2 separate regions of the Homo sapiens genome follow, and region 2 is linked to region 1. A link means that fine-mapping ties the variant in region 1 to the expression of a gene that starts in the linked region. Tissue or cell type: whole blood. Region 1 holds a variant in brackets; the other region holds the start of a gene. All regions are shown on one strand. Distances are from middle to middle.

The links. PIP is the estimated chance that this variant, and not a neighbour inherited with it, causes the effect. A credible set is the group of variants that fine-mapping cannot tell apart.
Region 2: GHRL starts here. The variant in region 1 is the best candidate, but not a certain one, in a credible set for the expression of GHRL in whole blood (TOPMed, PIP 0.67).

Annotation. Positions count from the first base shown.
Region 1 is chr3:10,256,149-10,260,533 of GRCh38, reverse strand. It overlaps TATDN2 (TatD DNase domain containing 2), which reads right to left. Exons shown (of 8, transcript NM_014760.4): 3 at 1-397. Among named protein-coding and RNA genes, the nearest start is that of TATDN2, 9.9 kb to the right of the region's middle. The variant C/G (reference allele first, on the strand shown) is at 2,378.
Region 2 is chr3:10,290,792-10,295,176 of GRCh38, reverse strand. GHRL (ghrelin and obestatin prepropeptide) reads left to right here and starts at 2,230. Exons shown (of 6, transcript NM_016362.5): 1 at 2,230-2,335; 2 at 3,726-4,385. GHRLOS (ghrelin opposite strand/antisense RNA) reads right to left here. Exons shown (of 6, transcript NR_073568.1): 6 at 1,728-3,109. RefSeq lists enhancers at 2,038-2,332, 2,143-2,392, 2,403-2,472, 3,984-4,385.

The DNA of each region.
Region 1 (4,385 bases):
AGAAGCTGCTCCTCTCTGGCACTGTCTTATCCTCCTCCATGCTGACCTCTGGGGTTGCGTCTTTCTCCTTCTGAGCAGCAGTGACTGTGACACTCCTGGCTGCTCCTTCTGCAGTCTTGGCTGGTCCTTCACTCCTGGCTGGTCCTTCTCCATGGCTGGGATGCTCTGCTGCGCTTGGTTTTGCCCGAGTGGCAGCCTCTCCCTTCCTTTTTGGCATCGATTTCCCCAGGATGCCCTGGATAGCCTTCAGGTAGATCATTGTGGAGCCCTGGTCTCGAAGTCTATCCCTCTTCCTTTTCTGGACCTTGTTGGGTTCCTCAATTGTATCATTCTGACCCTCAGCTTCAGCTGCAAATTCAGAGTTTGTGGAGTTATGAGAACTATCTTTGGAATCAACCTGGGAAAAAAAAAACAGAATTGAAAGGGCTGTTCCAAGGGCACTTTCGTACATGAAGCATTTGGCAAATTATAAATCAGTGGTGGTTCTACCAGTCAAAGGGAAAGTGACTGTGGCTAAGGCAAAGGTTCTCTCCGGGTGGTGAAGTGGCACTGTAAGAGGGGCTGATTGCTGCCATTTCTTAGCATTCGCCTTCTCATGCTCAGCAGATGATATCCTTTCACTGCAAGGGGACGGAAGGAGCTGAAATGAACACTCTCATTAAACCAGACTGCAAGCTCCTGGAAGGCAAGGACTACACTTCAGGCAAAACAGCAGCTCAAGCTCTTCCCACTGGAAAGGGCCCTAGAAACCAGCTAGCCCAATCCCATATCTAAGGGTAAAGGAAACCTGAGGACCCAGTGAGGGGAAGGGCTAGCCCCAGGAACTCCAATCCCCCAGTTCTGAGTGCAGTGTTTTTCCCACCATACCCAAAGCCTCCTGAAAGTTCTCTGCAAACACTTCCCCTCAAATAATCAACTTGGTTTTGGAAAATACCTCAGTTTCTCAGTGACTGCACCAGGGTCAGTCAAGATAGACTGCTCCCAACAACAAACCTCCTCCAAGACGGAAGTGAAGCCTCAGCCCCCTCTTGCACCCACTCACTCCAGGACTCCACACAGAAAAAGCTAGACTTTGTTTGCCAGACTATTTTGATGTGAAATTCTAATCCAGTCTAATCCCTGCCGGGTGTAAGAACTCTCCACAAATGTCCTCCTAAGGCCATTCCATAAGCAGTAAACCATTATCCCATTTGCATTCCTAAGTCATTTCTATTAAATTCCTCTCAAAAGTAAATACAGACCAGGTACAGTGGCTCATGCCTGTAATCCAGCACTTTGGGAAGCCGAGGCAGGTGGACTGCTTGAACCCAGGAGGTCGAGACAAGCCTGGCCAACATGGCGAAACCCCATCTCTATAAAACACACGGGGCGCGGTGGCTCATGCCTGTAATCCCAACACTTTGGGAGGCCAAGACAGGAAGATCACTTAGGCTCAGGAGTTCAAGACCAGCTTGGGCAAGGTGTCAAAACTCTGTCTCTACTAAAAATTACAAAAATTAGCTGGGCCATGGTGGCACACGCCTGTGATCCCAGCTACACGGGAGGCTAAGGCACAAGAATCGCTTGAACCTGGGAGGCAGAGGTTTCAGTGAGCCGTGACGGCACCACTGCACTCCAGCCTAGGCAATACAGTGAGACCCTATCTCAAAAAAAAAAAGGCAAAATTGCTTTATATGTATATATTCGCAAACAAGTCTAAAAAGCTAAACTGTTTATAATGGATCTCTTTGGGGAATGCAGGGAAGTAGAAAGAGACTTAGGCTCGGCTGGGAGCAGTGCCTCACACCTGTAATCCCAGCACTTTGGGAGGCCGAGGCAAGTGGATCACCTGACATCAGGAGTTCGAGACCAGCCTGGCCAACATGGCAAAACACTGTGTCTACTGAAAATACAAAACTTAAGCCAGGCATGGTGGCGGGCACCTGTAATCCCACTTACTCAGGAGGCTGAGGCAAAGAATCGCTTGAATCGGAAGGCAGAGGTTGCAGTGAGGCAAGATCGTGCCACTGCCCTCCAGCCCAGGCAACAAGAGCAAAACTCTGTCTCAAAAAAAAAAAAAAGAAGCAAAATAAAAATAAAATTACAAAAATTAGCCAGGCGTGGTGGCACATGCCTATAGTCCCAGCTACTCAAGAGGCTGAGGCAGGAGAATCACTTGAACCCAGGAGGCGGAGGATGCAGTAAGCCGAGATCATGCCACTGCACTCCAGCCTGGGTGAGAGAATGAGACTCTGTCTCAAACAAACAAACAAACAAAGGCTTAGGTGCTTATATTATAAGCTTCTTGTATCATTTGAAATTTTTTTCCGAAGAGCACATCATATTTTTTTTTAATCATTATCCTGAATCAAGGGCCAAAGGAAAATAAAACTTAAAA[C/G]AATCATAAACCTAGCTGGGCGCGGTGGCTAATGTCTGTAATCCCAGCACTTTGGGAGGCCGAGGCGGGCCCATCGAGACCATCCTGGCTAACACAGTGAAACCCCGTCTCTACTAAAAATACAAAAAATTAGCCGTGCGTGGTGGCGGGCGCCTGTAGTCCCAGCTACTCGGGAGGGTGAGGCAGGAGAATGGCGTGAACCCGGGAGGCGGAGCTTGCAGTGAGCCAAGATCGTGCCACTGCACTCCAGCCTGGGCTACAGAGTAAGACTCCATCTCCCAAAAAAAAAAAAAAAAAAAAAAAAAAAAAAAAAAATCATAAACCTTTAGAAATCTATACTTGTTAATATAGACATCTATTTTCCTGAAAGTACTCAAACTGTTGGCAGCTGCTAACTTCACGAAGATGAATAGGAAAGGTGGTGTTTGCTATCATTTTGAACCTCTGTGGACTTAGTAAATTTTCTTACTTTCTGTATTTTCTAACGTGTCTACAGAGATTATTTGTTAAAGGAGGTTACGGGTCATTTTTGTTTTTTTTTTTTGTTTTTTTTTTTTTTGGAGACAGTGGTGCGATCTCAGCTCACTGCAACCTCCGTCCCCCAGGTTCAACAGATTCTCCTGCCTCAGCCTCCCAAGTACCTGGGATTACAGGCATGTGCAATCACACCTGGCTAATTTTTGTATTTTTAGTAGACGGGGTTTCGCCATGTTGGCCAGGCTGGTCTTGAACTCCTGACCTCTGGTGATCCACCCACCTCGGCCTCCCAAAGTGCTGGGATTACAGGTGTGAGCCACCGCGCTCAGCCTGTTTTCTTTGTATCTTTTTATATTTAAGGAATTCATATATATATATATATATAATTTTTTTTTGAGGCAAAATCTCACTCTGTTGTCCAGGCTGGAGTGCGGGGTGTAACCTCAGCTCGCTGCAACCTCCGCCTCTGAGGTTCAAGCAATTCTTGTGCTTTAGCCTCCCTCCCAAGTAGCTGGGATTACAGGCATCTGCCACCACACCTGGCTAATTTTTTTTTGGTATTTTTAGTAGAGATGGGGTTTCACCATGTTGGCCTAACCTCAAGTGATCTGCCCGCCTTGGCCTCCCAAAGTGCTGGGATTACAGGCATGAGCCACCGTGCCTGGCCTCTAATACTAATAATAAATTTGATGACTCCCAGGGCCTGCCCTGTGAGACACAGCCCCAACTTCCCAGCCCACTTCTCTAGTGCCCTCTTCTGCCTGCCACCAACCACCTGCCACCCTTGGCCCATCACACCCTCTTACACATTTGCTAGCACATCTTATCTCCTCTGCTTGCCATGTCCTTGCCTCCGTCCCATTTTGTGTTCCCACCTGTCTGTTAAGGCCCCATCTCCACTGACTGCTTCTCCACCCCTGCCCTCTGCTCCCGCTGTAGCCACATATACAACACAGAGGGTGAGATCTGCAACAAACTGAGGAGTATCTGCACCCTCAGACGGGCAGCTGCTCCTCACCTCTAACTGGTGCCATTTGAGAGTAGAGAATCAGAGTTAGAGATTCTGTTTCTTTCAAGTAAAACCAGAAATATTGAATTTAGTGCACTTTTCAACCATTAAGCAAGCACTTACTAAGCACTTACTCTGTGCCAGCAGGCACGGTTCTGGACCTGTGGGTTTAGCGTTCAATAAAAAAAAAAACAAGGCTGGGTGTGGTGGCTCATGCCTGCAATTCCAGCACTTTGGGAGGCCAAGGCAGGAGGATCATTTGAGCCTAGGAGTTCAAGACCAGTCTGGGCAACATAGCAAGACCCCATCTGTACAAGAAAAATACAAAAATTAGCTGGGTGCAGTGACCCACACCTGTAGTCCCAGCTACTCCAGGAGCTGAGACAGAAGGATTGCTTGAGTGTGGAAGGTCAAGGTCACAGTAAGCCGAGCTTGTGCCACTGCACTCCAGCCTGTGGAGACGCTCCAAACTTTTGGAGACGCTGTCTCAAAAAAAAAAATAATAGTAATAACACACAAGAA
Region 2 (4,385 bases), 35 kb before region 1:
TATCGTAGTTGTTGAAGGTATTCTGCAATATGTTGAAGTCATATTTGTAAATCCTAGAGCAACCACTCAAAGAATAGAACAGTACAGTATAGCTAATAAGCCGACGGTGAAGACAAAATGATACCATTCAAAACCCTCTAAAAGTGGTTATGACAAGAGAAAGAAAAGGAAGAACAGATGGGACAATGGAAAAATTGGTGACTTACAAATAGTCTGGAGATTAACAGTAATGTGCTAACACTGGTGTTTTAATTTTGATAAATGTACTACGGTTATATAAGATATTCACGAGTGGAAACTGAATTGGGTTATTCAGAGAGAAAGATTTCATCTTCCATATGTTTATATTTTCTGCTGGAAGCAAGCATTTATAATCAAAATTTACCTGGGATACTTGGTAATTTATAATCAAAATTACCTGAGATACTTGAAACAGATTCTAAAGCCCCCACGCCAGAGCTACTGGATCAGAATCCAAGGATGGAGTCTTATAAACGTGCATAAAACTTATGAAGCTTTCCTCATGAATCCAACACAACCCAACACAGGTCTGTATCTGGAAATTGAGACGAGATGGCCCTCCAAGCCACGTCCCACCCTGAGGTCGTCCTATGGCTCTTAGCGGTCCATAGACTAAAAGGCTGGATGATCAGCAACGCTGAGACAACAGTTTCAGTACAGCAGTGGGGATGAGAGGCAAGGTCAAGTTTTGAGGGGCCAGGACACAGCAAAGAAGAGGACACAAGGAAAGGGGAAGGAAATGGAGATGGTAACACGAGGGGAGGGTGGGATCGGTGCACAACAGACGTTTTCAGGATTAGGAACCTGGGTGTATTTTAAGGCAGAAAGCAGAAGCCACTGGAGGGGAACAGAAGACACGAGAGAGGCAAAGTGTTAGAGCTTTGGCCCCAAGATGGCCGGAGGCTAGGGAAGCCCCAGTGAGAGAGGCAGAGCTTGGCGAAGAGGAGGGATGAGAGAGCATGGCTAAGGTCAGGGAGGATTTAAGAGCGATGGCCGCCTATCTAGAATGAGCCGCATGTGGCTGCTGAGCATTTGAAACATGGCTAGTCCAAATTGAAATGCACTGTAAGAACACACACTGGATTTCAAAGACTACACATCTGTAATCCCAGCACTTTGGGAGGCAAAGTCAGGCAGATCACTTAAGCCAGGAGTTCAAGACCAGCCTAGGCAACATGTCAAGACTCTGTCTCTACAAAAAATACAAAAATTAACTGGGTGTGGTGGTGTGACCTGTAGTCCCAGCTACTTGGGAGCCTGAGGTGGGAGGATCATCTTAGTCCAGGGAGGTGGAGGCTGCAGTGAGCCATGATAGTGCCACTGCACTCCAGCCTGGGTGACAGAGCAAGAACCTGTCTCAAAAAAATATATATGTATATTCATTTAGACATATGCTGTTGCACACTTAGACTATAGTATGGTATCAGCATACGTTTTATATTTACTGGGAAACCAACAAAATTCGTGTGACTTGCTTCATTGTGGTCTGGGACCAAAGCTGTAATGCCTCCAAGGTATGCCTGTATATTTCTATTGCAAAATGTGAATCTCGAAATTATAAAAGCTACAACTAGGACAAAAAGCAACCCCACCAAATAGCCCTATATCAAAGAATAAAATCTCTTTCTAGAACCCCAGAATTTGCCTCTTTCAGACTGAAGTTTAGCCAAATCTATGAAAAAAGAGCTTGCTAAACCAACTAATTATCAGTACAAATAAAATTATAATGAAAAGTCTATGAAGATAATTTGTTCTCAGATGCCCTTCACATATAGCAATTAATTCACAAATGATGAGTCACTCATGTGCCTTCATGAAGGCAGGCCCTCAAGAGACCCGCAACAGAAAGGAAAGCCACCGACTGGAGAGAACCTGCTTCCTGAGCCCCACCAAGTTCCAAAAAGGAGAATGGGGCTTCGTCCTCACCCTCAAGGAGTTGCCAAACTGGGCTTGGTTATTATTCACACTTGAAAAGAATGAGGAAGGTCAGCCAGTCCCCTCCAGGTCGCTCGGGCTTCCTCCAAGCTCCTCTTGGTTCAAATTTGCTGTGTCCTCCAGCCGGCATCTCTCCTCTGTTCCGTAACTGACAGGGCAGCGAGGTAGCTTCCGGATGACTCCTCCCGCCATGGTTCTTCCGTCCATCAGCTCTTCCTTCCTCAACTCTGTGGTATGTGGCTAGGGGAGTTTCCAACTCCCAGGGGACATTTCAGTTCCCCAAAGATAACACAGCTTTGCACAGTGGATGTTTACTTGCTGGTGGTCTTATCTAAGATCAACATTGGCAGCTGTGCCCGGAGAGGCCTCCAGGGTCCAGGTAAGTGGAGGCTTCATGTCTCAGGAGGTACCTGGTCACCACAGTTAGGATTTTTCTGTTTGGGGATTTTTTTTTTTATGGGTTGGTGGCTCTGAAAAAGCTGCAAGTCTTCTCTGAGGACTACAGACCTCTCTCCACCCTCTCCACATTCAGCCTCTCTGGGCTCCAGGGCCAAAAGATGTCTACACTCAGGTGGCAGACAGGCCTGTGAAGACCTCCTGGTGACATGCTCATATGTTGCTGGGACTAAAGGTGGGATTTTAGCCACCACAGTGGGTTGGTGGTGAGATGTTTACCAACAGGAGGTACTTTGTCCCTCATGTCCACTTAAAGATTCAGTCCAACCCGGCCTGTGCTTCTGCTGTCCCAAGAGACTCTAGAAAGCTCCAATCCTCCCTGAGGTTGATCTTTTAAGTCAGGGTAGGTGGTCATTCGGCAATCAACTGCTCTACTGCCTCAATGTCCTCCTCACTGGACGTCCTGCCCCAATTCCATCCTGTTCAGCGCAGACTGATTTTCCTGGAACACAATGTTCATTATGGAGCCAGATGGCATATCAGAAAGAGCACTGTATTAGGAGTCAAGAGATCCATGGGGGAATCCCAGCATTGCCCCTGATGGCTGTATAGCTTTGGGGAAAGTGAGGCCCTCTTGGCATTCAGTTTTTCTTCCAGCGAAATAAAGGATTCAGCCTCCCAGAGCTTTAAAGTCTTTCCAACTCTTTCATTCATTCTATGGTCTCTCTCTCCTCAAGAATCCTCAGTGGCTGCCCTCCTGCAAAAAAAGCCCAAACTTCTTGGGCTAGCAGTTCCCAAGGCATCCATCACCTGGCCCCAAACCACCTTCTTATGTTTTTGTTATGACCCCATCGCCACCCTCCCCCAAGCCACCCAGCCTTCTCCATGCTGCCCTGATGTACTCTACCCACGCCTTCACCTCCCCTCTGCTTGCCGCAAAGCCCTCCCTCCAAAGCCCTGCCCCGAGTTCACCACAGGCCTCTTTCCTGGAGCCTTTGCTAACATCCCTGCCGCAAGCCCCAGCCTAAGGTGAGCTCCTCTCCTGAACTGCTAGAACTTCTCTGCAGACAACTCATTGGCCCTTAGGGGTTCCTGCCTGGGCACCCAGTTGGATGAAGCACTCCAGAAAGGAAGAAATTCCTGGGGCCGAGGGAAATGAGGCAGTGGCCTTGGCCTATGCTGGGAAGTCCTATGGGCCTGGTATGAAACCATTGTCATCTGCAGGGTGTTTCACAGGTTAGAAGCCACTTTCCCCCCATCGCCTCATTTCACCCTCAAAGACTCTGGGTAAGGGGAATTATTTGTGGTCGGCGTAAGGCCAGTCAATGAGAGAGGAGCCAGGCCCGTGCTAAGCGTAGATCTTCCACCTCCAGGTCCAATGCACTTCCCTCTCAGAAGAGGCATCCGCTAAAATAGGGACCAAAGCTGCTGGAGGGAGGCAAGGCAAGCTGCTATGTGAAAAAACGCCAGGCCAGGCAGTCATGTCACACCTGGCAGAAATGACTGAAGCATAGCCACTGGCTGAAGTTATCCCCACACCCACTCTCTGGAGAGGATGATCAGGAGCAGTCTGCTCAACCGGGAGGTGGGACTCCTCCTCGGGAAGGTGTAGAATCACCAGCCTGGCTCCCTGCGGACTCCCGGGGCTCACAGAGGCCAGAGCAGCAACAGCACATGGGAAACAACGGGGCGCTGGACTGGGGAGGTCTCAGAGCTCTCCTAGTGATGACAGCCTCATTTTACCCAGGGAGAAAGGGCGAGTAAGCTAAGGTCACACAGCAACAAAGCTGCACCCAGACCCCAGAGCCACTCTCCTCCCTCCCTCCTCCACCAGGGCCATGCCCACTTGGGGCACCCCGCCACCGTGTTCCAGGGACAGCTGGAGCACATGCTTCTTCCCTCGCCAACCCAGCAATTCCGCAGGGCATCTGACCTCCACTGTTGACTTCTACCCAGAGGACAAGAACATTTTTAGTTCCCAAGGAATGTACATCAGCCCCACGGAAGCTAGGCCACCTCTGGGATGGGGTTGC